Linked DNA regions of Homo sapiens: regions 2, 3, 4, 5 and 6 are each reported to be linked to region 1. Evidence: microRNA targets listed by miRTarBase, many of them from high-throughput screens and not tested one by one. Region 1 holds a microRNA gene; each other region holds the end of a gene's coding sequence. Distances are between the middles of the regions.
The links. The annotated mature microRNA hsa-miR-6808-5p reads CAGGCAGGGAGGUGGGACCAUG and lies in region 1 at 2,547-2,568, shown strand. An mRNA with a match to its seed (bases 2 to 7 or 8) in the 3' UTR can be bound and repressed. Matches are read on the target gene's strand: a 7mer-m8 pairs with bases 2 to 8, a 7mer-A1 pairs with bases 2 to 7 and ends in A, and an 8mer does both.

Region 2: the mRNA of MRE11 is a reported target of hsa-miR-6808-5p. The part of its 3' UTR that is shown has no 7-base or 8-base seed match.
Region 3: miRTarBase lists AGBL5 as a target of hsa-miR-6808-5p. The part of its 3' UTR that is shown has no 7-base or 8-base seed match.
Region 4: miRTarBase lists BPNT1 as a target of hsa-miR-6808-5p. Seed matches in the 3' UTR shown: 7mer-m8 at 2,138-2,144.
Region 5: miRTarBase lists GTPBP10 as a target of hsa-miR-6808-5p. The part of its 3' UTR that is shown has no 7-base or 8-base seed match.
Region 6: the mRNA of PHYHIP is a reported target of hsa-miR-6808-5p. Seed matches in the 3' UTR shown: 7mer-m8 at 2,701-2,707.

Annotation. Positions count from the first base shown.
Region 1 is chr1:1,338,183-1,342,249 of GRCh38, reverse strand. MIR6808 (microRNA 6808) reads left to right here and starts at 2,542; the gene lies at 2,542-2,600. DVL1 (dishevelled segment polarity protein 1) reads left to right here. Exons shown (of 15, transcript NM_001330311.2): 4 at 94-197; 5 at 445-583; 6 at 1,747-1,840; 7 at 1,934-2,003; 8 at 2,073-2,212; 9 at 2,438-2,514; 10 at 2,601-2,668; 11 at 2,811-2,963; 12 at 3,597-3,728; 13 at 3,814-3,981; 14 at 4,067.
Region 2 is chr11:94,416,776-94,420,775 of GRCh38, reverse strand. MRE11 (MRE11 double strand break repair nuclease) reads left to right here. Exons shown (of 20, transcript NM_005591.4): 20 at 595-4,000. The coding sequence ends at 651. Among named protein-coding and RNA genes, the nearest start is that of GPR83, 17 kb to the right of the region's middle.
Region 3 is chr2:27,068,150-27,073,538 of GRCh38, reverse strand. It overlaps AGBL5 (AGBL carboxypeptidase 5), which reads right to left. Exons shown (of 15, transcript NM_021831.6): 13 at 4,795-4,907; 14 at 3,833-3,966; 15 at 2,921-3,447. The coding sequence ends at 3,276. It overlaps OST4 (oligosaccharyltransferase complex subunit 4, non-catalytic), which reads left to right and starts at 1,885. Exons shown (of 3, transcript NM_001134693.2): 1 at 1,885-1,938; 2 at 2,076-2,213; 3 at 2,818-3,067. The coding sequence starts at 2,077. The coding sequence ends at 2,190. RefSeq lists enhancers at 677-736, 2,167-2,406 and a silencer at 1,417-2,116.
Region 4 is chr1:220,054,833-220,060,221 of GRCh38, reverse strand. BPNT1 (3'(2'), 5'-bisphosphate nucleotidase 1) reads left to right here. Exons shown (of 9, transcript NM_006085.6): 8 at 431-536; 9 at 1,230-2,740. The coding sequence ends at 1,378. Among named protein-coding and RNA genes, the nearest start is that of EPRS1, 11 kb to the right of the region's middle. RefSeq lists an enhancer at 261-430.
Region 5 is chr7:90,383,783-90,389,171 of GRCh38, reverse strand. GTPBP10 (GTP binding protein 10) reads right to left here. Exons shown (of 10, transcript NM_033107.4): 10 at 1-4,280. The coding sequence ends at 4,018. Among named protein-coding and RNA genes, the nearest start is that of CLDN12, 17 kb to the left of the region's middle.
Region 6 is chr8:22,217,086-22,222,474 of GRCh38, reverse strand. It overlaps PHYHIP (phytanoyl-CoA 2-hydroxylase interacting protein), which reads left to right. Exons shown (of 5, transcript NM_014759.5): 5 at 588-2,772. The coding sequence ends at 1,122. Among named protein-coding and RNA genes, the nearest start is that of PHYHIP, 12 kb to the left of the region's middle. RefSeq lists an enhancer at 1,761-2,461.

The DNA.
Region 1 (4,067 bases):
GCTGGGGTCCCACAGGCGAGGGGAGGCTGGGCTGGGCGGCATCTGAGGGGCTGGGGCCACGGCCTCCCCACCCACCCTGCTCTTGTTGCACAGCCCAAATGTGGCCAGCAGCCGTGACGGGATGGACAACGAGACAGGCACGGAGTCCATGGTCAGTCACCGGCGGGAGCGTGCCCGACGCCGGAACCGCGAGGAGGGTACAGTGGTCATGTCTGCCCAGCTGTGGACCCCCAGCCTCCCTGGGACCCCCATGAGCCATGTTCCTACTACAGCAGTTCCTGTCCCCCAGCCAGTGGCGGTGCTTGGGTGGAGGCACAGGCCCAGCGAGCCTACAGTTGAGCTGCCAGCTCCCAGACCCACAGGCATGCAGCACTGCCCAGGCAGCCCCAAACCCATGACCTCTGGGAGACCCTGCAGTCAGTTCCCAACCTGCTGCCCCCACAGCCGCCCGGACCAATGGGCACCCAAGGGGAGACCGACGGCGGGATGTGGGGCTGCCCCCAGACAGCGCGTCCACCGCCCTCAGCAGCGAGCTTGAGTCCAGCAGCTTTGTGGACTCGGACGAGGATGGCAGCACGAGCAGGTGTGTGGGAGTGTCTGTGGGCGTGTATGCCTGTGTGCCCACTTGCAAATGTCTGTACATGATGTGCATGTGTCTGCATGAGGTGTTTTCACATTGCACGTGTGTGCGTGTGTGTGCATGTGTGTGCCTGCAAATGTCTGTGTACATGATGCACGTGTGCTTGTGCACGTGTTCCACATGAGGTGTTTTCACTGTGCACGTGTGTGCGCGCCTGTGTGTGTGCCCGCGTGCAAACGTGTACATGATGCACGTGTCTGCTTGTGCATGTGTGTCTGTGTGAGGCGTTTTCACATTGCGGATGTGTCTGTGCATGTACCTGTGTGCAAACGTTTATGTACATGATGCGCATGTCTGTGTGTGCATGTATGTGTGTGTGAGGTGCGTTTTCACAGTGTGCACGTGAGCGTTTTCACAATGCACGCGTGTGCGCAGGTGTGTGCATGTGTGCGTGTGCGTGTGTGCAGGTGTGCGTGTGCAGATGTGCGTGTGTGCAGGTGTGCTTGTACAGGTGTATGTGAAGGTGTGCGTGCAGGTGTGCATGTGCAGGCGTGCGTGTGCAGGTGTGTGCAGGTGTGCCTGTGTGCAGGGGTGCGTGTGTGCAGGTGTGCATGTGTGTGCAGGGGTGCGTGTGTGCAGGGGTGCATTGTGCAGGGGTGCGTGTGCAGGTGAGTATGCAGGTGTGCATGTGTGCCTGTGCAGGTGTGTAGTGTGCAGGGGTGCGTGTGTGCAGGTGTGCATGCGTGTGCAGGTGTGCGTGTGTTCATGCGTGCGTGTGCAGGGGTGTGCATGTGTGCCTGTGCGCAGGGGTGCATGTGTGCAGGGTTGCGTGTGTGCAGGTGTGTGTGCAGGTGTGTGCATGTGTGCCTTGTGCAGGGGTGCGTGTGTGCAGGTGTGCATGTGTGTGCAGGTGTGCATGTGTGCAGGTGTGTCAGTAGTGGATCTGGCTACATGTGTCTGTGCCCAGTTTGCCTGTCTCTGGGATTTTCGTGTGTGCTCATATGCATATCACGTGTGCAGGGCCTGGGGCGTGGACGTCAGGCACTGAGCCTGCTTTGGAACAAGCCTGGCCTAGACCCCCGATTCCCACTCAGTATTGGGGGAGCGGGTTCCCACCCCCCTACCCATGTCTCCAGCTCCTCTGAGCTCTGACAGTCTGTTCCCAGGCTCAGCAGCTCCACGGAGCAGAGCACCTCATCCAGACTCATCCGGAAGCACAAACGCCGGCGGAGGAAGCAGCGCCTTCGGCAGGCGGACCGGGTAGGCAGCCGGGTGGAGCAGGGCGGGGCTGGGGAGGCGAAGTCAGTGTCGGGCAGCCCCGTGCCTTTTACACACGCCCCCTCTCCTCCATAGGCCTCCTCCTTCAGCAGCATAACCGACTCCACCATGTCCCTCAACATCGTCACTGTCACGCTCAACATGGGTGAGGCCTCGGGGCGAGGGTTGGGGGCAGGGGCAGGGGCTTGGCCGCGGCTCATGGCTCTTCCTGCAGAAAGACATCACTTTCTGGGCATCAGCATCGTGGGGCAGAGCAACGACCGTGGAGACGGCGGCATCTACATTGGCTCCATCATGAAGGGCGGGGCTGTGGCCGCTGACGGCCGCATCGAGCCCGGCGACATGTTGCTGCAGGTGTGTCTGTGGGGGCTGCGGGGTGACATGTAGCTGCGGGTGGGTCCGTGGGGACTTTGGGGTGACGTGCGGCTGCGGGTGGGTCTGTAGGGGCTGCTGGGGGACATGCGGCTGCGGGTGGGTCTGCGGGGGCTGCTGGGGGACATGCGGCTGTGGGTGGGTCTGCGGGGGCGGTGGACTGAGCTGCACATCCTGCCTGCACCACCCTAATCCCCACCCCTGCAGGTGAATGACGTGAACTTTGAGAACATGAGCAATGACGATGCCGTGCGGGTGCTGCGGGAGATCGTTTCCCAGACGGGGTGAGGGCTGGGGGCGCTGGAGCGGGAGGGGCCAGGCAGGGAGGTGGGACCATGGGGGCCTTGCTGTGTGACCACCGTTCCTGCAGGCCCATCAGCCTCACTGTGGCCAAGTGCTGGGACCCAACGCCCCGAAGCTACTTCACCGTCCCACGGGGTGAGTGGCCCTCGGGGCACACGGGGCGGGATGGGGAGGGGGCGCCTACCTAGCCTGAAGGCCTCTCTCCTCTGTGCCCTGCACCCTGCCCTCCCACCCTGTCCATCTGTCCGCCTGTCATCGCCACGTGGCGGCCACCCAGCTGACCCGGTGCGGCCCATCGACCCCGCCGCCTGGCTGTCCCACACGGCGGCACTGACAGGAGCCCTGCCCCGCTACGGTACGAGTCCCTGCTCCAGCGCCGTCACGCGCACCAGCTCCTCCTCACTAACCAGCTCCGTGCCTGGTGCTCCACGTAAGTGGCAGCTCCTGAGGGCCCCAGCAGAAACCGAGGCTTGGAGGGGGCGTCTCTGCCAGCCTCCAGCATGGCCGCCTGTGGCCGTCATGGGGCTGTGACACGTGTGTGTTGCCTGTCCCCAACTCCCTGCACAGACGTGTGCACAGGCACCCGTGCCCACCTTGTGCAGCCCATCCTGCTCATGGTCTGTGTGTTGGGAACAGGGGATGTACGTAGGGCCCCTATGCGGGGAGCACCCACGGCGTCAGAGGCAGGGGCCAGGTCTCCATTCTGCTTCCTGCCATTAACACGACTAACAGCCTGCGCTCTCGGGTGGGGCATGCGGGGAGGGGAAGGGGCCTGCCCTGTTCTCATTACTTCCTGGTCTGCAGGGTGGGGTGTCAGCCCAGTTTGTGCCTAGGATCCTGATGAAAAGTGTCTGTAGAAGTGGGAGACTAAATGTCCAACCCCCCTGCTCACGCCCCAGCCTCACGGGGGTGCATCCTGCAGTGGGCCGGGGCCCTGCTGTCACGCACCGTCCAGCTTGCGCCCTGGCGCAGGCTCTGCCCAGAGGCTCCCCTGGGGGTGCAGGGCCCTGAGTCCCCCGCCTTCAGATGCTGGGGCTGAAGCGGGGCTGTCTGTGCTTTGCAGAGCTGGAAGAGGCGCCGCTGACGGTGAAGAGTGACATGAGCGCCGTCGTCCGGGTCATGCAGCTGCCAGACTCGGGACTGGAGATCCGCGACCGCATGTGGCTCAAGATCACCATCGCCAATGCCGTCATCGGTGAGTGGCCGTCCCCGCGGGCGGATAGTGCCAGGGGCAGGGCTGCTTGCCTCGAGGCTGCGGGCTGACCGCTGGTGCCGGCCAGGGGCGGACGTGGTGGACTGGCTGTACACACACGTGGAGGGCTTCAAGGAGCGGCGGGAGGCCCGGAAGTACGCCAGCAGCTTGCTGAAGCACGGCTTCCTGCGGCACACGGTCAACAAGATCACCTTCTCCGAGCAGTGCTACTACGTCTTCGGGGATCTCTGCAGCAGTGAGTGGGGGCTTCGGGCTTCAGGGCGGGGGGGAGGGGAACGCCGGAGGCCCCTCCGCGGCCCTCACCTACCCTCCCCCGCCAGA
Region 2 (4,000 bases), not on the chromosome of region 1:
CAGGCGTGAGCCACCGCGCCCGGCCAGCATGGGAACTCTTGAAATAACTGCATGTATTTCTTTTTTTATCCAAAAAACTATTTGAAAGCTTGCTTTGCTAGGTTGTTTTTTGCATAAGTGTGAGAGTAGCTAGCTATTTCTAGTATTAAATGGTAATGGGAAATAAAATTACAGCTGTTTCTGAGTTGGATCTCCATGTGGCTTCATTATTTTTTCGCTGTGAATTTCCAGAAGAGTAGATACAACTGTAATAAAATGTAAATGAGAAAATATATTCAAAAACCAAATATAAAATGACTTGAATTATTTTTCTGGCTTACCTATACTTCATTTATCTTTATTAAGGTTAGTAAGGGAAATGTGTGTGGTTTATATTGTAGATACATGCACACACAGCAGGATAAATTTTCATTTTAATGCTCATTAAGAATTTAATTGTACTTAATATATTTTGCAGTTATAAAGGAAATAGAAAAATAAAGTCTATCCCATGTGAAATGACTCTCACTGGTATTGTTTTGCCCATAAGAACTTCTGTCTTGTTTCAGTGAAGCAGGGAACAATCACTAATACAACATTTGTATCTCATTTCAGGATGATGATGATGATCCTTTTATGAACACTAGTTCTTTAAGAAGAAATAGAAGATAATATATTTAATGGCACTGAGAAACATGCAAGATACAGGAAAAATGAAAATGTTACAAGCTAAGAGTTTACAGTTTAAGATTTTAAGTATTGTTTCCTGAGCATAACTCCATAAGTAAGAAATTTCTAGTTCACAGACATACAATAGCATTGATTCACCTTGTTTTTTTAACCTGGTTGTTGTAGTAAGAGCTTTGTTTCAATATCACTCTTGAGTAAAGATTAAAATAAAGCTACCATTTTACATTTCTATTTCATAATGAAAAACTATGTCAGTATTTTAATATGGTTACATTTAGCCAAAGTTGAGGGAAAGAGCTTATAAAATTTAACTTCTTCATAATTTTAGTAATTTCCTAGAGGTTCTGGGTTTTCTGAAAGTAAAACAATTTATGCGAACCTATGTCTAAATTCACTGTTTGTTACTATGTATGTTTTTTTCCAATGCTTCTTATAAGACTAAATGATTAGAAGTACCTAATAGTTTGAACAGATATGTTTTTATTTAAAAGAGTAGAATAACCTTTCAGAATTACTGAGTTTTTTATTCCAGTTGTAGCAAAGATTTCAAAAGATTGTGTTCCCATTAAGTGGTAGTAATTTCCTTTATTATTCTGTATCCTTAATGGTGTTCTCTCTCTCTCTCTCTCTCTCTCTCTCTCCCTCTCCCCCCCGTTCCCCACTCTTCCTTTCTCCTTTGCTTTTTCTTCTCTTTCATACATATATGCGTGCCTAGTTCTAGGAGGAAACGGGTTAAAAATTGTTTTAAACTACATCTTGAAAATATTGAAGAATTTGTTTTAGGTAGAGTGGTCAGTTGAACCTTACAGTAAAGTATAGAAATATATTTAATGTGGAATGTCAATGCCAGGATTTCTCATTAACAATATTTTATCTCAACTTTGGTTCCTGTGATACATTTCTGAATGGGCAATTCCAGAAATCTTAGTAGCCCATGTTAAGCTTCTATTTTTTACTTGTTTTCGGGGAGAAATAAGAATTAGACATCTTCAGATTTAAGTTAAATAATCCCATTCTTTATAATCCTCTGTAAAAAGATCCCTGAGATTATTCCTTCTTCTAGTTTTATGCGACAGCTTTACTTTAAAATTCAAGTTATACATCTTGGGAGTACAATGGCCCGACATTTCTTCATAGGTAGAAACAAATACTTGACTCAGTGATACTCATGACCATTAGAATAGTCATACCTGGAATGTGTCAAATTATAAGAGACAGACACTTGGTTAGTGGCTGCCTCATATAGCACTTTTGAAGAGGCCTAAGTCAAAACTTGCAATATAACATTCTATTGACTTTCTTAAAAATATTTTTTCTGTACCTAACTTGAGCATAAGGGTTATTTGAGCAAGTAACATTAACTCAGTGGAAGGCATTGTCCTGTGAAATATTCTTAGGCAGATCTGCCCACATCTTTATTGAACTTGAAATCTAATATTTCTAGTATTTGAACAAAGCAGAAGGTTAAGTCAGGGAAGAGCAGTGCTGTCCATGATGTAATGGAAGCTACCAGGGGAGGCAGTGTCTGGATGATGCTGTGCTACCTACCCCTGCACAAGCCATGCTGGCTCAGTCTGAGCTGTGGGCCACATCAGCTAGTGGCTCTTCTCATGCATCAGTTAGGTGGGTCTGGGTGAGAGTTATAGTGAGGGAATGGTCACTAAAGTATCCTGACAAGTTCCTAGGAAAAAAGGAATAAAGTTTTTTTCCTTAAAAAAAAAAAAATTGCTCTTGGCTGTGAAAAGAGGTACTAAATGCGATTCAGTTCACCGCTAAGGAAAGTGATGACATAGCAGTTACAGAGGGTGATAAATCTCTCCAGCTAATTCAGGTCATTTTGTGAATACTATGTATCAAGCCCTGAAAATATGGTAAATAAAACGTGACAGGGAAACCTTTTTTTGATTGAATATTGTTACATAGTTAAATGTGCTATATATCCTTAATATTTTATATTGATCCTGCAAAATCTGTTGGTTTTAGGGGAGTTTTGTTTTTTGTTTCTAACAATTTTCAGACCTGTTGGTATAGGAATGTAGAAGTCTTTCAGATGATTTGAAAGCAGCTGCATTTGCTCTTGGAGGCTTTGGGAGAGCAGGAATGAAAACATTCAGAGGAAGACATCTGTAGGGAATTCTTCTGTTACTTACCAAAGAATAAGTGTCTTTCTGGTGTTTTATTTCCTATCATAAAAATACAACAGTGCATTTACAAGGTTAAAGATTCCTCGAAGTTCTAGGAAATTCTTGAAAATATAAGTGGTGCTTAGAAAATTCAAGCATTTAGGAATGTGACCTTTAATTCAGGTATGTAAAAGACTTTTTTCCCAAACTTTTAAAAGTAGGAAATACAATAAATACAGAAAAGTCATATGGTTGAATAAATAATTATAAATTGAGCACTGATGGAATCCCTCTACAGGTCAAGAAATAGCGCAGTGTCCTGGATGCCCATTATATTGTTTTCTCCTTTCTGGGTAACAAGCCCTAACTTCTGTAATTTAAAAGCTCCTACTTTTGCCACAAGGTGGTGCTTCTGCCATTAGACGCAGTTAGGAGGATGCAACTGCAAATCTAAAATTACGAAGTTAGTGTAGTTGCAATAAACTTAGAACATATGCATTAATACTAAACCTATGCAGTAATACCATAATTAGCCTTCTAATCATGTAATTTGCTTTACTTAGGTATTTCATTTGGTTCAGCCTGTTATGGAATTTACCAGCTTGATAAATTTGCCTATAAAGTTTTATAAAGAAAAGGAATATTTTGTTTTCATAAAGAGGAAAATCCATTCTTAGAAAAAAACTGAGTAAAAAAGTATCTCAATGGGCTGGGTGCAGTGGCTCATGCCTTTAATCCCAGCACTTTGGGAGGCCGAGGAGGGGGTTCACCTGAGGTCAGGAGTTTGAGACCAGCCTGGCCAACATGGTGAAACCTCGTCTCTACTAAAAATACAAAAGATTAGCTGGGCATGGTGGTGTGTGCCTGTAATCTTAGCTACTCAGGAGGCTGAGGCAGGAGAATCGCTTGAACCCAGGAGGCAGAGGTTGCAGTGAGCCGAGATTGTGCCATTGCACTGCAGCCTGGGCAACAAGAGTGAAACTCAATCTCAAAAAAAAAAAAAGTATCTAAATGTAAAATATCTTTTTTGGAAATATAGAATTTAAAAGCGACTTTCCCCCAAAGAAATCTGATGTCCTTTTTGTATCTGTCATAAATTTAATTCATAGTATTTTGGGTTTTTTTTGTTTTTTTTTTTTGAGACGGAGTCTCGCACTCTTGCCCAGGCTGGAGGGCAGGGGCACCATTTCGGCTCACTGCAAGCTCCA
Region 3 (5,389 bases), not on the chromosome of region 1:
GCTGGGATTACAGGCATGCACCACCAGCTAAGTTTTGTATTTTTAGTAGAGATGGGGTTTCACTATATTGGCCAGGCTGGTCTCGAACTCCTGACCTCAGGTGATCCTCCCGCCTTGGCTTCCCAAAATGTCAGGATTACAGGTATGAGCCACCATGCCTGGCCAGTTTCTTTCTTCATAAGATGATTTTGAAGGCCCCTTTCGGCTCTGATAGTCTAGGATACTATGCACCTGGGTCAATTGGTTTTAAGCACTTTCAAGGCTTGCTTTCCTGTCATTTTCAGTCTAGAAAGTTTAACTTCCAGGGCTGGCCTAAAGGTAGAGCTTATTTTTAAAAGGGAGGGCTAGTTCTGATTCAACAGTAGACCTAAGTGTTTGGTTGGACTTGGATCTGCTTCAAATTTCCAGGAGACATGAAGCATAATGACGTGTAATCCTTAAGACCTAGACCCTTACTCTCCCAGAGAGGAGCTGGAAACAGACCGCTTACTGAGGGATGCATAAGGGAGTACCTGTCTGGGGTTTCACCAGTGTTGTGTGGAGGGGACTCGGCTTTCTAAATATCAAGCTTCTGGGAAATATTGAGTGGGGGCTGGTGGTGAGGTGCGGGGAGGCCACGGGAACTACAGACTACTAAAGGCAGGGATTATGTTTAGAAGCCACGGGGCTGAAGCCCTTGGGTGACAAGCTGTTGATGGTCCCAGGCCCGGGAAGGCTACTTTGGGATAGTGCATCCCCAGCTCAGTGCACACAGGCGGGAAACTGGTCCCCTGTCCCAAGCCCATAGCATCTCCTGTAGAGTTTTCTTTGGCTCCGAGAAGCAGAGGCCTCCCCTGAGCCCTGGCCCCCCTCTACCGCAAAGCAACTGGCTTCCATTACCCCTGACAGCTCCAGAGCAACAGCCCAGCCCCCGGCCCCGGCCTGGCTCAGTGCCGTTCCCTTTTATGGTGAAGCTGAGAGAAAGCATGGAGTGAGGGGGGAGAAAGCTCTGGCTTGGGCAGAGGCTTGGAGAGTTCCAGGGTGCCTCTCCCCTCGCCAGAGACCCTCGGCTACCCGCAGCCACCGCTCTTCGTTCTCTTCGGCGACCTAATCTGTCCTGAACCCAGGACCCCTCTTGCTTGTCCCAGCCCTTCCTCCTCTTCTCCATTCCTCCCCTTCTCCCTCCCCCACATCCGGGGGGTGATTTCCCACTTGGCCGAAGTCCCACGGTTTGGGTTTTGATTCCGGGAGGGTCCGCCCTATTTCCGACGCCCACCTCCGGGGGGTAGGGTGGAGGGAGGGAGCCCGGCTAAGACAGAACCTGGTCAGATCACAAAAGGCAGGATGGTTCTACTTGGTTGCATGTGGGTCACAAAGGATGGCGCCGGAGAAAGGAGCACCCGGCAGCACCAGCCCTGTCCCCATTCTACAACGCCTCCTACCCCTGTCCCCGCCGTCCGGGCCAGGGAGAGGGCACTGAGGGCAGGACCCAAAGGAAGCACCTGGTTGGGCCGGGCCGGGAAGCGAAGGGTGGGCAGCAGTACTGAGGGCCGGGGCCGGAAGGGGGTTGGAGTATCCCGCCGGCCCCGCCGCTGCACCCTCGCCCCAGCCCACTCCTCGGCTCCGGGGAGGCGGCCACCACGGCTTCGCTAGCCGCGTCCCGAGCCACGCCAGCTGCAGCCAGCTGTGCGGTGCCGGGCCCAGGCGCGCGTCCGCAGCCCCGCCCCACCCCCTACGGCTGGACCTCCCACCGCAGCCGCGCCCGAGGCCCCGCCCCAGCCGCGGCCGTAACGCGCCGCGCGGAGCCGACGAGACGGCGGGGCTAGAGAGGCCGTCCCGACCGCGCCCCCCGCCGGAAGCGGCTTGTTCGGGCCTGAGCTGGCGCTACGAAGTTCCGGTCCAGGTCTCTGACTTCGGGCTTGTTCGCTGGTGGCGTCGGAGCCGAGCCGGACTGGTCAGGTCAGAGGCACGCAGGGGCCGTCCCACGGGCCAGCCCCGCCGTGGCCGTGGCCGTGGCTGGCCCGTGGGGCGAGGACGGGTTCTTGCGAGGGCGAGGAGTGCGCCAGCCCGCAGCTCAGCCCCTCTCTTCTCCGCAGGATGATCACGGACGTGCAGCTCGCCATCTTCGCCAACATGCTGGGCGTGTCGCTCTTCTTGCTTGTCGTTCTCTATCACTACGTGGCCGTCAACAATCCCAAGAAGCAGGAATGAAAGTGGCGCTTTCTCCGCCCCAGGTAACGGCCCGGGGCTGTAGCGCCCAGTCCCCAGAGCTGAGTGGCGAGGCCGCGCCAGGGCTAGCAGGGTTCGAAACTTACAATCAGAAAGTGTCGGGCCAAGCATGATACAGTCCAGAACTGGGCCCCTTTGTCTGCACAGAGTAGAGAGAGAGCGCGCTGTCCTCTCCCCGTAACCTGTTCCCTGCTAGAATGGGAGTGGGTTGCCTAACCCTCACAGTCTCCAGTAGGTAGATGCCCAAGTTGGGAGTATAGTTGTAAGGAGGCACTGACACCGGTAGGAACGAAGGTACCGAGGGAACCATCCAAGTATGAGGATTTGGGCTCTTAAATAGCCCTCATTTTCCCCAGGTTGTTTAGGCCTTATTTGGGCAGATTTTTTTTGGTGAGGGGGGTGACAGATGTAGAATTCTGTTTCCATGTTCTGAGGCCAGGGGTTGGCTGCTGACCCAAACTATAGAGAAGGAAGGGGGGGCTTTGGAGCCAGCCTTAAGTGTGGGTCACAAGTATAAAGGGAACATGGATGGGCGTTACTTCCTGAAGGATTCCCCAGAGGAAAGCTGCAGCATTTTCCTTACCTCAGGTCTTTCCCCCTCTTTTCTAGGGTTCCAGGACATAGTCTGAGGCAAGATGGAGGGTATGAGGGGCCTTCACACTTCACTTCATCCCTTCTACCCATCACAACATACAAAGCAACTACACCTGGATTTTTCCAAACAACTTTTATTTCCTCAGAGTCTTCCTTAATCCTATGGAACAAGAAGCTGCCACTGAATAGGGCCCAGTATAGGGGCTTGCTTTTCTACTCCCTCCCCCCAATATAAAAATATAGACTTTTTTTTGTGGTCCCAAAATCTTGTGCTGCGGAGGGAGGGAAGGGGTGGCAGGTCCCTGTTTTGTTCTGTCTCAAGGTGATACTCTGTAATGCCTTGGACAGCGTGGCTGGCATTCCAAGGACTTAACGGCTGTCACATGGAATCAGCGGCCTGGAGGGGAACTAGCATATTTCCCACTGTTACCCCATCTTGGGGCTATATCCTGGGCTTGAACATAAAGGCATTATCAGACCCGGGGAGAAACAGTCAGTGGGGGAGATTTAGGGACAAAACAAACCTCAGGTTGGCCCAAGGGACCCCTGCTGTAACAATTCCAGGATGGGGAGTCAGATAGACTACAGGATATAGGAGAAAAGGCAGGGGCAGAGCGGGGCCGTGGGGGCCTGGCCTGAGGCAGCCTGCAACAGAAAAGAGAGAGGAATCAGGGCTGTGAAAACTCTCCTCCTCTTCTGTTCTGCTAACCAGGGGCTGGGAAGTGAAAGAAGTGGAGCGAGATGAAGATGGGTAAGGATGGGCAAGTTGGTTACTGCACAGTGGTTTGACGCTGGAACCAGCCAGCTCCTAGACCTTAGGCCCTGACTAAAAGTTGTTTTCTTTTGCTTTGGATTGAAGACTTGGCCATGGTGGGGGAAAAAAAAATCAGGGACTAGATTCTTAATGGAAGTACATTTAGTCTTTGTGCTCAAAAGGAGTAGGGAAGCAGAAAATTATTCTGAATGACAGAAATGGGAATGAGGGGACAGAAGTGAGGGGTGGTGTGAGGGACTGGACCCAAGTGCTCACCCTGGTGTAGCAGAGCAGGATCCCAGCTCCAGCTCACTGCTCTCCCTGGTCCGGGGGGTAGGGGATGTGGGGCCTGAAGAGCCTTTCATCCCTCTGCGAGTCGGCGGTGAGCCCCGGCCCAACCTGGGCCTAGCCTGTGTGGACAGGGTTTGCGCTAAGAGGCTGGATTCTTCCATGAGTTTTTTGCTTTTAGTTTGCTTCTAGAGTTTCCATGCATAAGAGTGTTGTAGTATAGGGATCAGTAGAGGTACTGGGACATTGAATTCTAGCTGAGAGGGTGAGGCAAGATAATAGCCAGAGAAGTCCTGGATTCAGTCCATGACTATGCACTCCAAGTCTATAACTAGGGGTGGCAAACGGATCCAGCATTTAACCGCCATGGCTACACCATGACTAAGGTCTGGGTGAGTAGAGAAACACTGTGTAGAAAGATAGTGGAGGGTTGGTAGACCTCTCTCAGAGCCCTCTATGCTTTAGCCCCTGCCAGAGCAGTGTACACTTCACCCATCCAGTCAGCCTCTGCCTATACTCAGCTTTACCTAGCATGGGGATCTGGACTGAATCGGAGTTGGTGGCAGGGCTGTTCCTAGCAGCAGCAACCAAATGTGTTACCTGGGGAATCCGGGACCCCTCCTGGCGGAAACTCTCCTCGGACAGGTCTGGGCAGAAAGAGAGGAGAAGCTAAGGGCAGGGGCAGGGAAAGCCAAAGCTAGCAGGCTAAGGTTGGGGTATATCTGGCAGGGACACAGGTTGAAAGCAAGCAAATGACCTGGCTGATGGGGATGGTGGAGGGCAGGAAGGGGACTGGACAGACAGGCACTCAGGCACCAGAGAAGCTCTCTGATGTGGCCAAGGGTAGATGCAGTAAAGCAGTGCTGAGCATTTTCCCTCCCACTACCCAGAGGAACAGTGCCTTGCTGGGTTCTGCCAGAGTAGCTATGCTGGAGACCCAAAAATATTACCTGCAATCGAGTCTTGATGCAGGGCATCCGAGCTCCAGTCCCTAGCAGACCTTTCCCGATTACCATGACAGCCTCTGGTTTGTCTCCAGAGGACAAGAGTGAGCAACTGCTCCCTAGGGAACAGAGGAAACTGATCAGGGTAGGGGTCACAGAGAAGAGGAGGTAACTTCCAAAGGATCAGGGTTTCTTAACCTTGGCACGTTGACAATTTGGGTTGGATAATTCTTTATCGTGGGGAGTAGTCTTGTGCATTGTAGGATGTTTCGCAGCATCCCTAGCCTCTAAACAATTTATGCTGTTTCCTCATCTCCCCCCTCCTCAGTGTAACAACCAAAAATGTCTCCAGATGTTGCCTGATGTCACCTGGCAGCAAAATCACCCCTGGTTGAGGCTCTAGTCTGGTGGTCCAAGGGGTGGAGCAGCAACTCCAGGCTAGAATCGGAACGCACCCAAGCTTAACTCCTGTGTCAGTTTATACTGCCGCAATCATATGTTTAGCATTTGAGGATCAAGTCAGCTCTACCCAGGACTGGTGGGTTCAGTGCTACCCATTGAGGAGAGTTGACAGGTTGGGAGTAGGGGTCTTTGAATGAGG
Region 4 (5,389 bases), 220 Mb from region 1:
TTACAGGAGTGAGCCACCATGCGCAGCCCTCTAATAAATGGTCAATTTTTTAGATGTTGAAAAAACTTGAATTAATTCTGCTGTAAATGTATATTGCTTTTACACTAAAAAAGAAAAACAACGTGAATAAAAGGAACATGTTACTTTATGTAACTTGGAATATGGAGACAGTTCAGATATCCTCTTTGTAGCTTTTTTGACCATTATTTTTCCTTCATATCACTATATTATTATGCATTTATTCTATGTATTTCTTCATAATACTGGTATAATTTAAACCTGCTAAAAGCTTTAACTAAATTTAACAGAGGAACTGATTAAATGTCCTTGATAGAAACAAGCAGTTTTTCTTATCTGTACCTCAATCTTTTCATGACTTTCAATTATTCTTTCTATTATCAAAGGATAATTCTTATTTTTACCCTTACAGATTATTCAGCTGATTGAAGGCAAAGCCTCTGCTTATGTATTTGCAAGTCCTGGTTGTAAGAAGTGGGATACTTGTGCTCCAGAAGTTATTTTACATGCTGTGGGAGGTTAGTCTGTTTTATTTGAGGAAATTCATAGTTTTTCTACAATTATATCATGCTAAGACATAATATCTCAGTAATATTATTTTACTTAGACTGTTACGATATAAAAGCTAGAAGGCAGCTTAGAGATTATCCAGTCCAAACCCCTCATATGATAGATGGATGAGAGAGCAGATTTTCAGCAAGTTTTACTTTAGTTATCGTCTCTTTTTTTGAACTTTGATCTGCATACAGTTAATTTAATTTAGCCCTTATTTATAGCCTTTTTTTTTTTTTGACACAGGGTCGCTATTGTCTAGGCTGGAATGCAGTGGTGCAATCATGGCTCACTGCACCCTTGAACTCCTGGGCTTGTAGTGAACCGAGGTTGTAGTAACTGAGATTGTGCCATTGCACTCCAGCCTGGGCAAGACTCCATCTCAAAAAAAAAAAAAAAAAAAAAAAAGAAAAGAAAATGCTAAATAAAATTAATATTAATCAGAGAAAAAATAATTTTATATCCTTTAGTTAGTTAAAATTGTTCTGTAGTCTTAAATTTCAAGTGAATTAAAACTTAACCTTTATGGACACTCATTATTTCATCCAGAATTTATTGGCTACTATTGGATAAGGAAGCAAAAGGCACTTAAAAATAACTAGAAAAACCACAATCCAATTAGCCACTAACTTGATTGATTGATTGATGTTTTTCTATAGGCAAGTTAACCGATATCCATGGGAATGTTCTTCAGTACCACAAGGATGTGAAGCATATGAACTCTGCAGGAGTCCTGGCCACACTGAGGAATTATGACTACTATGCAAGCCGAGTTCCAGAATCTATTAAAAATGCACTTGTTCCTTAAAGGAAAGTTTCATTTGGCCGGGCGCGGTGGCTCATGCCTGTAATCCCAGCACTTTGGGAGGCCGAGGCAGGTGGATCACTTGAGCTCAGGAGTTTGAGACCAGCCTGGGCAATATCGTGAGACCCCATCTCTACAAAAATACAAATTAACTGGGCATCCTGTCATGCGCCTGTCATCCCAGCTACTTGAGAGGCTGAAGCAGAAGAATCTCTTGAGCCCGGAAGGCAGAGGTTGCAGTGAGCTGAGATCGTGCCACTGCACTCCAGCCTGAGTGACAGGAGTTAAGCCCTGTCTCAGAAAAAAAAAAAACAAAAACCCAAAAAGTACTTAAAGTTTCATTTACTTAGCTAGGAGAAAGACTTGGTTCTCAAAATAATACATTTTAAGATTAATTGGGTAGAATTAGAGTTCCACCTTTATTCATTGTTGAGCAGTGATTTATATTTAGTTATTATATTTAGGAATAGAAAATAGAATTAAATAATTTAACTTGATTAATCAACCAGACCAATTTTGACGTCTGGAGAACTTATAAACTCAATATGTTATATTTGTTTTCCTGTATTTAGGTGGAGAAATGAGAAAAAGCTTTAGTTCCAATTGACAGTTCAGGTCAATGTTCAATGAACATTCCTATCTTCTAAACCAGATTTCTCTTTTTTTTTCCTGAGACGGAGTCTCGCTCTGTAGCCTAGGCTAGAATGTAGTGGCGTGATCTCGGCTCACTGCAAGCTCCGCCTCCCGGGTTCATGCCATTCTCCTGCCTCAGCCTCCCGAGTAGCTGGGACTGCAGGCACCGCCACCACGCCTGGCTAATTTTTTGTATTTTTAGTAGAGAAGGTGTTTCACCGTGTTAGCCAGGATGGTCTTGATCTCCTGACATCGTGATCTGTCTGCCTCGGACTCCCAAAGTGCTGGGATTACAGGTGTGAGCCACCGCACCTGGCCTAAACCAGATTTCTTTAGGGCACAATTTTTTCTGGAATCTCACTCTTGTTTTTCACAGTAATTTTAAAAACGTTTCTACTCCAATTAAGAATATATATGATGTTATTATATATGCTTATGAAACAGATTTATGAGAAAAGTTTTTTTTAAATAAATTATTTAATCCTAGCTCTTTGTTATTCACCAGCTTTTTAAAAAAGTGTTTGAAAATTATACATTCTCGACTTTGGGGATTAGTTTATTCTTGTGGCATCATTATAAGGCTTAATTGTGGAAAGCTAAGTACTTGCTTCTATTCCTTCCAATGAGAGATTATAACATAAACTATTAAAATTATTCTGCTAATATACCTAGATTTTTATTTTTAGGTCTCTGTCCATTGCTTTTAATTAAAATTATCTGTTTTCAAATCAACAAGTGGTTTAAATTAACAGTTCCCAAACTCAACTGCATATCAGAATCACCTAGGAAGATTCTTTTAAAATGCAGATTCACAGGCCAGGCGCAGTGGCTCATGCCTGTAATCACAGCACTTTGGGAGGCCGAGGCGGGTGGATCGCCTGAGGTCAGGAGTTCGAGACCAGCCTGGCCAACATGGCGAAACCCTGTCTCTCCTAAAAATACGAAAATTAGCCGGGCATGGTGGTGTGTGCCTGTAATCCCAGCTACCAGGGGGCTGAGGCAGGAGGATCACTTGAACCTGGGAGGCAGAGGTTGCAGTGAGCTGAGATCGTGCCACTGCACTCCAGCCTGGGCAACAAAGCGAGACTCTGTCTCAAACAATAAAAATAAAAATTCACAGGGTTTATCCCAACGATTTTGCTTGTGTGTGTGTGTGTGTGTGTGTGTGTGTGTGTGTGTTTATTTACTTATTTATTTATTTATTTTGAGACAGAGTCACTCTCTGTCACCCAGGCCAGAGTGCAGTGGTGCAATCTCGGCTCACTGCAACCTCCACCTCCCGGGCTCAAGCGATTCTCCTGCCTCAGCCTCCTGAGTAGCTGGGACTACAGGCACATGCCACCACCCCTGGCTAATTTTTTGTATTTTTAGTAGAGACGGGGTTTCGCTGTGTTAGCCAGGATGGTCTCGATCTTCTGACCTCATAATCTGCCCACCTTGGCCTCCCAAAGTCCTGGGATTACAAATGTGAGCCACCACGCTCAGCCTGCTTCTGTATATTTTAAGAAATTCAGGGACTGATAATCATTTAACTCTAGGACTCACTAGATAAGGTAATATAGTATTATTTTATAGAAGTGTCATAATCTAGCAGGAAGAGGTCTCTGTGGTCTTGACACCTTTGAGCCCTCCCTCCTGTAAGTCTCTTCTCATTGTCCTGGCTTTCTTTTTTCACCTAGCCACTCCTACTCAGTCTCCTTTATTGCTTTCTCTTTGTCTTCCTTCCCTTAAATGTCACTGTTTACCAAGATTCTGTTCTAGTCTCTCTCCTTTCTTTTTTTTCTTTTTTTGGTAGAGATGGGGTCTTGCTATACAGCCCAGGCTGGTCTTGAACTCCTAGCCTCAAGCAATCCTCCTGCCTCTGTCTCCCAATGTGCTGGGATTATAGGTGTGAGCCACTGCACCTGGACTATGCTTTCTCTCCTTTCTCACCAGAGGATCTAATCCACCTGTGTGACTTTTGTGGCGCTTTTGCTCATTAATCCAAAATCTTTAGCTTAGAACTCTCAAACTCTAGATCTATATACCCCAAAACCTACCTAGATGCCTTACAGAGATGTCTGAATGATTATGTCTAAACAGTTCTTCACTCTTGCCCCGACCCCTCCAGAAATTATTTTACAAACCCATGAGGTGATCTTGATAATTGGCCAAGTTAGAAAATCATCACCTGAATCCACCTGCTTCCCTCTACGAATGGAGTTCTCTATCTGTAAATAGTGGACTAAACCTAATTTTTAAAAAATCTAAGTGTAACAAGAGAATAACTTTATTTTTATTTATTTATATATTTCTTGAGACGGAGTCTCGCTCTGTCGCCAGGCTGGAGTGCAGGGGCGCAATCTTGGCTCACTGCAGCCTCCGCCTCACGGGTTCAAGCGATTCTCCTGCCTCAGCCTCCTGAGTAGCTGGGATTACAGGCATGTGCCACCACGCCCAGGTAATTTTTGTATTTTTAGTAAAGATGGGGTTTCACCATGTTGGCCAGGCTGGTCTCGAACTCCTGACCTCAGGTGATCCGCCTGCCTTGGCCTCCCAAAGTGTTGGGATTATAGGTGTGAGCCACTGCGCCCAGCCCTAAGATAATAACTTTTTTTTTTTTTTTTTTTTTTTTGAGATGGAGTCTCACTCTGTCACCCAGGCTGGAGTGCAATGGCATGATTTCAGCTCACTACAACCTCTGCCTCCCGGGTTCAAGTGGTTCTCCTGCTTCAGCCTCCCGAGTAGCAGGGGCACACCACCACACCTGGCTAATTTTTTGTATCTTTAGTAGAGACAGGGGTTTCACCATGTTGGCCAGGCTGGTCTTGAACTCCTGACCTCAGGTGATCCACCTTCCTCAGCCTCCCAAAGTGCTGGGATTACAGGTGTGAGCCACCACACCCGGCCGAAAATAACTTTGAAGGTATTTTCTTCAGGTTCCTATACGAAAACCCAATTTATGTAAGTGAGATATGTAGGAGTCTAAATCCTCTCTCCATTACTCTTGACTCTACATTAATTACATTAGTTTATACCCTTATACCCCGTTATTTCTTCCCTAGATCCCTGCAGTGTCTTGACTAATCTTTCTGCCTACACTGTAACCCATCTATCTCTCTCTCATCCATTTATCACGTCATCTCCAGAGTGATTTTTTTGTTTTGTTTTGTTTTTGAGACAGGGTCTCGCTCTGTCACCCAGGCTGGAGTGCAGTGGTGTGCTTATAGCTCACTGCAGCCTTGACCTCCTGGGCTTAAGCAATTCTCCTGCCTCAGCCCCCCCAAGTAGCTGAGACTACAGGTTTGCACAGTAACGCCTGGCTAAGCCGGGCGTGGTGTCTCACGCCTGTAATCCCAGCACTTTGGGAGGCTGAGGTGGGTGGATCACTTGAGGTCAGGA
Region 5 (5,389 bases), not on the chromosome of region 1:
TGTTTCACTTTCTATTCCGTTAAGGAGAGACAGATTTAAACCAGATTTGAGATACTATTAAGGATTTAAAGATATGCATTAAATTCAATTCACTATTTGGTCTTTAAAACAAAATGTTGCCCTATTTTTGCAATAAGATATCTTTTATCTTTTGTGTAGGTTTACACAAGTTATATTACTAATTTTTATTTTTAAGCTACAGTTTTAAAGTGCATCTGTGCTGTTGCTTTGAAAAATTATTTTTAATATATCTTAATGACAATGCAAATTTGTAGATGGGATTTGTAAAACTGGGTTTTCAATCTGAACTTTGCAAACACTGTGAAACTGCTTGGAAAATAGTTTATGTGTTTATGTACATTTTTCGGCAAGACAAGTCTGTAGCTTTCATTAACTACTGAAAGGAATCTCTAACCTTCATCCTTGCAAAGCAAATAAGCACTGAGATAAAAGAAAACACATAACTTTACAAGAAATCTAATTGGATAAAACCTGAAATATCCTTGACCTAATTTTTCTCATTATAAAAGATGACTTTTTTCCTGATTATGTAACTAATACATGTTTACCATTTTAAAAAAGTTCACCTTGTTATGACAAATAATAATATGAATATATATCACAAAAAGCACAACATAATAGGTATTTTGGAATTTTTCAGTGTGCAGGTCCAACTTCATAGTACAATATACTTAATACTGTATAAACATATTTCATGATGGTAAATAAATCTGATATTATAGAAAGCTCTGCAAGAACTACTGGGACTTTGTAAAAATTTGCTGTACATTGAATTTAATACTCTGGTTATTCAGTAACATAATAAGTGTTTCAAAAAAGCATATATTTTGAAAATTGCATTTTGAAAGGTAAAAATGAAAAGTCTTACTTAAGGACAAAATAAAATGCATCTGAGATAATGTTAAAAGACTTACTTCAAAATAAGTCTTTGTTTCAAAATTATTTTTTATAAGATAAAAAAGGAATCTGATCTTCTCCATCAGAATAAAAATCAAAGGTCAAAAAAAGGTACATAGAGTACACTTTGAGTAACCAGAAAATACTAATGAATTGAACATCTTAGTGAGTCACATAATAAAATGTTTCGGTTAGTCATGGAGTGGCACCCTGGGCACTACTGACAGAGCAAATAATCCTGAACACACATCTACTACCCTTTGCCACAGTGCAAAATGAGATTATGGTGTCAGTACTTCTGATATTCACCTGATGAAACTGTCCTTACATTGATACTTGTTTACATTTAGAAAACAATGGAGCTTAAAAAAAAATAGCACTGAAGTTACAAATGTAAAACATACCCAATACAAAACCTGGTCACTGTGATCACTATAAATTCCAAACGCTTTTCCTCACTCTTATTCTTTTCTTGTAAAGAGGCTATTCCAATCCCCTGCAGTTTCTGTTATCAAAGGCAAGATATACAAGGACAGTAGGTCCTGTCTGTTCTCTTCAACATGGCACATACAGCACCTTGGACAGTGCCTGATACAGGACATTGCTCAATAAATACATCAGCAATGAAGAAAAAAGAAATAAAAGAAAAGCCAGTTTGGGGACTGGAATGAGAGGTAGGAGTGAGGAACAGAAAATAAAACAAATATAATTGAAATAATACTGGGAAAACATCACTCATGTTGTCAAATCAGAAAAAAATTTAAGCTGAGAACAATGCATTATTTTTCTTTAATACTTTACCAAAGGGTGAACAGCCATATCTCAGGCTGTATGCAACATTAAATTCCAAAATAATTTCTAGTAATTTAAAAATAGCATTGAAGAATAATTTTTTGAAGTACAATATTTTGTTTTTTGAGAGGAAGTCTCCCTCTTGTCCTCCAGGCTGGAGTGCAATGGCGCAATCTCAGCTCACTGCAACCTCCGCCTCCCGGGTTCAAGCGATTCTCCTGCCTCAGCCTCCCGAGTAGCTGGGATTACAGACATGCGCCACCATGCCCAGCTGATTTTTGTATTTTAGTAGAGATGGGTTTTCACCATGTTGGCCAGGCTGGTCTTGAACTCCTGACCTCAAGTGGTCTTCCTGCCTCAGCCTCCCAAAGTGCTGAGATTAACAGGCGTGACCCACCGTGCCTGGCCTGAAGTACAATTTTTTAACTTGCTACTATTATGTAAAAAAACACTAAGTTGGAAAAAATTTATATAATGAATTCATTTGGGTAAAAATTTATACATAAAAAATTTCTGCAAGAATGTAAACTATTAATCATTTTCCCTGGGAAGAACTGAGGGGCCTAATGCAGAAAGGGAGCTTTTATTAGTTACTTATATGCTTTTGTACTATTTGAATTTTTTGTTTTTACAATCAATATGTACATTTTATAATAAAACTCATTTAAAGGGAAAATGTCCAGTTTGTATTTGTGAAACACTCAGGTAGAAACTTAGAAATTGCAATCTCTTATAATATATTGATTGTTGATAATATTAAAGTTTGCGTTTTCTGTTTTATAGAGAGCCAGGGTCTTGCTATGTTGCTCAGGCATGAACTCCTGGGCTCAAGCAATCCTCCCGCCTTGGCATCCCAAAGTGCTAGGATTACAGGCATGTACCGCTATGTCTGGCCTGCACCACCATGCCTGGCCTGCACTTGCTATTTATTCTCTCTTTACTAAAATAAGAAAGTGGGAAATTAAATAGATTATGACAAAAGAAAGTGAAATAGACTAGGACAAAAGAAAAATGAAACAATATAGATCAGTCTCCTCCAATTCAGGAAAAAATACTATTACATTCAAGAAACGAAAATTTTCCAAAAGCTCAAATCATAAACAGCTATCTTCTAGTTTCTGTCATATCTTTACTATCATTGAACATGTATTCAAATTTAGGGTTTTAAGGTCTCCACAAAAGATAACTATTATATATTTAGTGCAACCAGGTACAAGACAGGCTCAAAAACAAACAAAACTGAATTGCTCATTCTAATAATAATCTAGAGAATCCTTCCACATAAATTTAAAAAATGATCTCAATAGGGACATCCTAAGTAAAGGAATATCAGAGAATGTTATTACAGGTGGGCTGGCCATAAACTTGTAAAATGTAATTTTTTAGCTCTTTTTTTTTTTTGAGATGGAGTCTAGCTCTGTCACCCAGGCTGAAGTGCAGTGGCGCGACCTCGGGTTCATTGTATCCTCCACCTCCCGCGTTCAAGCAATTCTCCTGCCTCAGCCTCTTGAGTAGCTGGGGCTACAACAGGCATGCGCCACTATGCCTGGCTAATTTTTTATATTTTTAGTAGAGACGGGGTTTCGCCATGTTGGCCAGGCTGGTCTTGAACTCCTGACCTCAAGTGATCTGCCCTCCTCGGCCTCCGAAAAGTGCTGGGATTACAGGCATGAGCCACCATGCCTGGCCACTGGTTATTTTTTACTGTTGACATACTTAATTACAAAATAATAACTTTAAAAGGTATGGTTCTTCAATAATGACACATATATCAGAAGGTAATAATACTAAAAAAAAGATCTGTGAAAAAACTTTCAAAATAAAAAAATTAAATATAATTTTAAAAAATGACGTAGAAAAACTGGATTTATCATGTGTAACATGTTTTGAAATATCTATACATTGTGGAATGGCTCAATATAGCTAATTAACGTGCATTACCTTATGTGCTTTTTTGGAAAAACCACTTAAAATTTACTCAGTGACTTTCAAAATACATTGTTGTTAATTACAGTCACCAAGCTGTACAACAGATCTCTTGAACTCAGTTGCCTTGTCTAACTGAAATTTTGTAAATTTTGACCAATATCTCCTCAATCCTCCACTGCCCCACCAGCCCTTGATAACCACCATTCTATTCTCTCCTTCTATGAGTTCAACTTAAGATTCCACAGTGAGATTATGCAGCATTTGTCTTTCTAAGCCTGGCTTATTTTACTTAACATGTCCTCCAGGTTGTCACAGATGAAAGGATTTCCTTGTTTTTAAGCATTAAATACTGTTCCATCAATACCATTTTTAATATATTTAAATTATATCCATTTTGGAAGTAGTAACAGCATGCTTTGATGGTGGCTCAGTAGAAGACATTGTATCAGAAATCCACAAATTAAGCAACTGTTTCTTATGAAGTGCATCATTTTCCTGGTTGGCCTGTTCATCCAGTGACTTTCTTATACAATTCTTTAATTCTTCGATTCCTTCTCCAGTAACTGCAGATATGGGGATGATATGTTGGAACTCTACAGTCCTCTCTGGAATCATGTTTTTTTCAAATAAATGCAGAAAATCTAAAAGAAAGAGCACAAACAAAGCTGATTTCCATTGTTTTCGAAAGTTAGTTAAAACCATGTTAATGGTTTGATTTGTGAAGCAGGGAACCAACACCAGCATTTTTCATGCCTTTTTTCACCTTTTCTAATAAGTTCTCAGAGCCTTTGGATTTTACCATTGATTATGGTAAGGTTCTTGGCACATAACATACTTGTTAGATAAATATATTTTAAACCAAACTAAGTATGAGTAGAAGATGAATCACAAAAATGACTTACTTAAGGAAGTAATAAATTTTGTGTGTGTGGGGGGGGTTAAATAAGGCAAGGCAGCATTGATTCTCTGAAAGATACTTTCTGTAAAAATAATAACATCATTTATGATTTGAGACATTCTACTTGGCCTCAGTACACTGGAGACCTTTAACTTCCCCAAAGTATAGGTTTATCATCAATGATGCTAGGATCCATACAAAAACTGAAGAGGGATTATAGAGAATTCAAGGGAAGATAATTTCAGATGAGTCCAATCTATCACCCCACAAGGGCTAACAATTGTTATATTACTTTTACCTCTTCCCTGTCACCATGGCATACTGATTGGCTGGGGAGATGGCATACTGATTAGATGGATTAACTGATATGAACTAGAAAGGCTGGACTGAAACAGATTGGTGGAGAAGACAACATGGAGCTTACTTTCTGAGATTCAAAAGCCCCGAAGAAAGTCCAGAGAGGATAACTCAGGATTATCACTAAAGGGCCTATATTTTATTTCACGATAGGTCAGAACAGCTACAGACTCCTGAGTCACCCTCACTTTCGGTATTTCCTCTGAAAATTCCCTTCTCTGCAAGATCAACTAGCAAAAAGAACTAATGACCATACAAAGCAAATGTCATTAGGAATGAAGGCTATTTAGTATCAGAGAATATTTATATCCCATGAGTAATTTATTAACTCAAGGACAGCTCCAACATGTAGATTACACAGGGGAAAGATTTTTGAGAGGAAAGGACCTTCTGGTGCTGTTTGACAGTCTTAGTACCTATAATCTATTTTCCAACAATTGTTACCAAGAATAAAAACAGAGACATATTGAAAAACATGTTAGCCACATACCATAC
Region 6 (5,389 bases), not on the chromosome of region 1:
GGGCAACATAGTGAGAAGATTGGGTGTCCTGCACATAGTAGGAAGCCAAAAATTTGTCAAGTGCAGGTGTCTGCTGTTCCTGGGAGGTTTTAGAGGGGAGCAGACGCTTGACTGAAGCTTGAAGGCTAATTAGAAGTTTGCCAAGCCAGACGGAGGAAGGTGGAGAGGGCAGTCAGTGCAGCAGAGGGAAGAGTCCTGCATAGGGGTCACGGAGGCAGGAGACTGTGTGTGCAGGGGGTGGGTAAGTGGATGGGGTGGCAGGAGGTGGGGAGTGGCAAGGAGACCACAGAGATCAGATCATGAGCCGCCGTGTTTTTCACACACACCCCATCAAAGGGTTTCAAGCTGGGGAGTGACAGCTTCATATCTCTTCTCTGAGAAGGAGTGGGCTGGTTGAATCCCTCTCCAGGGCCCTCCCTGCTCTTGCATTCTGGAATGTTCTATTTGCGACTAGTGGAGGCGGCTGGGGGAGGGCTGGGAGCTGGGCTGGCTTCCTCCCTCCTCGACCACACGCAGCAGCCAAGCCTCAGCCCGGCTCACCAGCCACATCTTCTCTTCCCTTTGGTGTGTCTCCCTGGGGTGGGCAGGACCCACTGCGGGAACATGCTGCAGCCTTACCTGAAGGACAACAGTGGCAGCCACGGCTCCCCCACCAGCGGTATGCTCCACGGGGTCTTCTTCAGCTGCAACACGGAGTTCAACACGGGCCAGCCCCCGCAGGACTCCCCCTACGGCCGCTGGCGCTTCCAGATCCCAGCTCAGCGCCTCTTCAATCCCAGCACCAACCTCTACTTTGCGGACTTCTACTGCATGTACACGGCCTACCACTACGCCATCCTGGTGCTGGCGCCCAAAGGCTCCCTGGGGGACCGCTTCTGCCGCGACCGCCTGCCCCTCCTGGACATTGCTTGCAACAAGTTCCTGACCTGCAGCGTGGAGGATGGGGAGCTGGTCTTCCGCCACGCCCAGGACCTCATCCTGGAGATCATCTACACTGAGCCCGTCGACCTGTCCCTGGGCACCCTGGGGGAGATCAGTGGGCACCAGCTCATGAGTCTGTCTACTGCCGATGCCAAGAAGGACCCCAGCTGCAAGACCTGCAACATCAGCGTGGGCCGCTAGGGACTCCTGGGGAGCTGGGGGGCGAGGGAGAGATGAGCGGAAGGTGGAGGTGGGTAGCCCAGGTTCAGGGAGCTGGCTTTCTCTCTCCTGCCCCCCTGCTCCCTCCACTCTGCCCAGCTGCCCTCCCCTCGCCCCTTGGCATTGGAGGCAACAGACGGTGGTCCTCTTGGTAAGTGTGGCCCACACCCAGCCTGGTGGACATGGAAAGGCTTCTCAGCCTCTGTAGTTGGCAGCTGGGCTGGACTTCTGGAGAACTTCCCCTTTCCTCTGGTTTCCTTGTCCTACTGTTCTTTGCCTCGTCCAGGTCTCTATCTCCCAAAGACCTGCCCACCTCCTGGGCTCTCCCAGGGAAGCCCCTCTGGGCCAAAGCCCATGGGTAGCTTGGCTGCCTCCAGAAGAGATGCAGAGAGCTGTGGGGCGATCTTTCTTAGTCCCACTCACCCCACTCAGGGCCAACCACAGAATGCCCCCTCCCTGCTGAGCTGGGTCTCTGGGGCTTCCCACTCCAGGCCTGGATCCCTTCCTTCTATAAATAGTCTCCTGCACCACCGTGACTCCCTGGCTGCTCCTTGCCCCAAAGAACCCTCTTCCTGCATGGGAGAGCTGTCCCTCCTTCTCCACCTGCCCACCGGGACACTCCCCCTGCTCTCTAGAAAGGAACTCTCTTTCTTCTCTTGGCACTGGGGGCGTCAGGCTGTCGGATGTTCCTTCCTTCCATACCCCAGCATACCTTCTCCTTGCTTAGAGTGCAGGGGTCTGAGACAGCAGCCACTGGGGTTGAGGAGGGGGAGGAGACCCCTGAGACCCAGAGGTGCCCCTTCCTCAGCTGGGAGTGGGCCGCCTCATGCTCTGCTGGGGCCTGGCATGGAACGTGAGACCTGTAAGCTGTCCCGCGGGCCCCGGCACCCCGCCCAGCTGTGCACTTTGCTCACTCGCTCTGCCATGGTGCCATGACTGTACTGTGCCCATGCGTGACCTGGACTGTGGACCCTCTGCTGCTCCGCCTCTCCCCTCCCCACTGGCTCTGTCTGCTCTCCTGCCACCCTGCTGGCCGGGAGCCCCTCCCCGGGGAGTTCTTGGTGAAGTCCTTCCCGGGCCTCCTTGTGTTTTTGCCTCATTCCTACTGTCACACAGGTCACGAGGGTGGACTCCCTACAATCAACAAAGCAAACAGAGAGCCTGTGGGAGGGGCTGACAGCAGCAGCCGGCTGTTTGGGGGATGATGGAGGTGACATCAGGCAGAGGAGAGTGCAGCCTCACAGTGACTTTCTCAGAGGTGACAGAGATGATGGATGAGCAGCTGGATTTTCGTGATGAAGGACGGAAGCAGCAGCGGGCCGGCAAGGCCATACCTCGGTGAGGGACAGGTGGACAACGGTCACCTATCTGTAGCCAGGGGCAGTTGTGTGGCCAGCTGTCTCTCTGGGATGAGTCAGGAGGCCTGGAGGCTTGGGGAGAGGTGTGGAGAAGGAGAGAACATGGCCCAGGCCCTTTCCTTCCCCCTGTGCTGACAGCATTGCTGTGGGGGTGGCCCACTGCCCTCCCCTGGCCCTCATGTCCCCCCGGGGCTGGGGTCCGCCTGCCTGTGCTGTGCTTGCGACGTGCATCAATAAACCACCATGGCCTGAGGGCCCTGCTCGTCTCAGTCCATTTGAGCTGCTGTAACAAAATACCACACATTGGGTGGCTCAGAAACCGCAGATTCATTTCTCATAGATCAAGGTGCTGGCAGAAGCGGTGTCTGGTGAGGGCCTGCTTCACAGATGGCTCTTTTCACTGTGTCCTCACAGGGTGAAAGGGACTAGCAAGCTCTCTTGCCCCTCCTTTTTTTTTTTTGTAGACATGGGGAATTTCACCTTGTTGCCCAGGCTGGCCTCAAACTCCTGGCCTCAAGTGATCCTCCCACCTGCTTGGCCTCCCAAGGTGCTTGGGATTACAGGCATGAGCCACTGCTCTGGGCCATCTTGGGCCCCTTTCATAAAGGCACTAATCCCATTCATGTGGCCCCACCCTCATGACCTCATCGCCTTCCAAGGCCCTGCTTCCTAAAACTATCACCTTGGGGTTAGAATTTCCACCTAGAGCTGGGTGAGGTGGCTCACGCCTGTAATCCCAGCATTTTGGGAGGCTGAGGCAGGTGGATCAGTGGAGGTCAGGGGTTCAAGACCAGCCTGGCCAATATGGTGAAACCCTGTCTCTACTAAAAATACAAAATTAGCTGGGCGTGGTGGTGCATGCCTGTAATCCTAGCTACTGAGGAGCCTGAGGCAGGAGAATTGCTTGAACCTAGGAGGCGGAGGTTGCAGCAAGCCGAGATTGCGCCATTGCACTCCAGCCTGGGTTACAGAGTGAGACTCCATCTCAAAAAAAAAAAAAAAAAAAAAAAAAAAAAGTCAACCTAGGATTTAGGGGGGACACAAACATTCAGACCATAGCACCCCATCCCTTTGGGCCAGTGATGGTATGGGTGAGTTCTGCAAACCACAGAGGAGCTCAGGTGGGAATGCCCCCAGGACAGGCGACCTGAAATCAGCTCCAAGGGAGCACCTCGTCCATTGTGGGAGGCGGGGCTCAGGATGTAGAGCTGAGTCTCCAGCTTGGAAGGGACTTTGGAGTCTTTTGGTCCCACCCAGTGTTTCCCATATGGGGCCTCCCACATGGGGCGTCCTAGGAGAGGACTCACAGCATCTGGAGGCCCCGTTTGGAGCTTTTGAAGCCTTCCTACTACAGCAGCTTGCCATTGCTCCAGACCCAGATGCCACCAAATGTCCCTGTCCCAAGTGCCTGAGTGTCCCCGCTCCCCAACACAGCTCCCGTTTATAGATCCCAGTCACCTCTGCATCTATCATTTTATTATTATCATTATCATTATTATTTTTGAGATGGAGCCTCGCTCTGTCACCCAGGCTGGAGTGCAGTGGCACGATCTTGGCTCAGTGTAACTTCCACCTCCCAGGTTCAAGCAATTCTCCAGCCTCAGCCTCCCACGTAGCTGGGACTACAGGTACATGCCACCATGCCTGGATAATTTTTGTATTTTTAATAGAGATGAGCTTTCACCATGTTGGCCAGGCTGGTCTCGAACCCCTGACCTCAAGTGATCCACCCACCTCAGCCTCCCAAAGTGCTGGGATTACAGGCATGAGCGAGCCACTGTGCCTGGCCATTATTTTTATTTCTTGAGACAGGGTCTTCCTCTGTTGTCCAGACTGGAGTGCAGTGGCACGATCATGGTTCACTGCAGCCTCAACCTCTGGGGCCCAAGTGATCCTCCCACCTCAGCCTCCAGAGTAGTTGGGACCACAGGCGTACACCACCATGCCCAGCTAGGTTTTTTAACATTTTTTATTTTGTAGAGATGGAGTTTCCCTGTGTTGCCCAGGCTGGTCTCAAACTCCTGGGCTTAAGTGATCCTCCTGCCTCCCAAAGTGCTGGGATTACAGGCTTGAGTCACTGCACCTGGCCTGCATCTATTGTTATGGACTTATTGATATGGTCCTCTGCTGGAGTAGAAAAGCTCTAAAGAAGTCAGAGTCCTCACCAACACTGCCTGACTCAAGGCCATGTTCACGTGTGTCATCCAGAGCTCAGGGCACAGCCTTTTTGGGGTAGAAAGGAAAGCAGAAGGGCAGATGATGGCTCCTGAGGGCCTACTATGCACCAGGCACCTGGGTGCTGTCACACACATCAGCTTCTTTAGTCTTCACGATGGTCCTGGGGAGTATTATTCCCACTTAACAGAAGTAGAAACTGAGGCACAAAGCCTTGCCCATGTCTTACAGCCTGTAAGTGACAGTGCCCAGGCTTTGATTGAGATACCAGAATCTTCCCATTTTCTGCCCTGTGCCTGTCTCCTCTAGTGTATGTCAGGGGCTACCTGGGACAGTCCTGTTTCAGACACAGTGACACCCCCAGGGGTCCCCTCCACAACACCAGTTAAGCACGTCTGTGCCTAGTTCCAGAATATCACAGGGGTGGGCGGGGGGAGGCTATGGAGTCACGGAGGGCACAGAAGCTTATTTTAAAGGCATAGTGGAGCGGAGCCGGACCATGGTATCACGCGCCTGTAGTCCCAGCTACTTGGGAGGCTGACGTCGGAGGATCACTTGAGCCCAGGAGTTCAAGGCTACAGTAAGCTATGAGCGTGCCACTGCAGTCCAGCTTGGGTCACAGAGCGAGACCCCAACTTTTGAAAAACAAAGGGAGTAGTGGGCAGTACCTCAAATCCAGCATTCTGAGAATGGAGTGACTCGGGGCCAACCCTTCT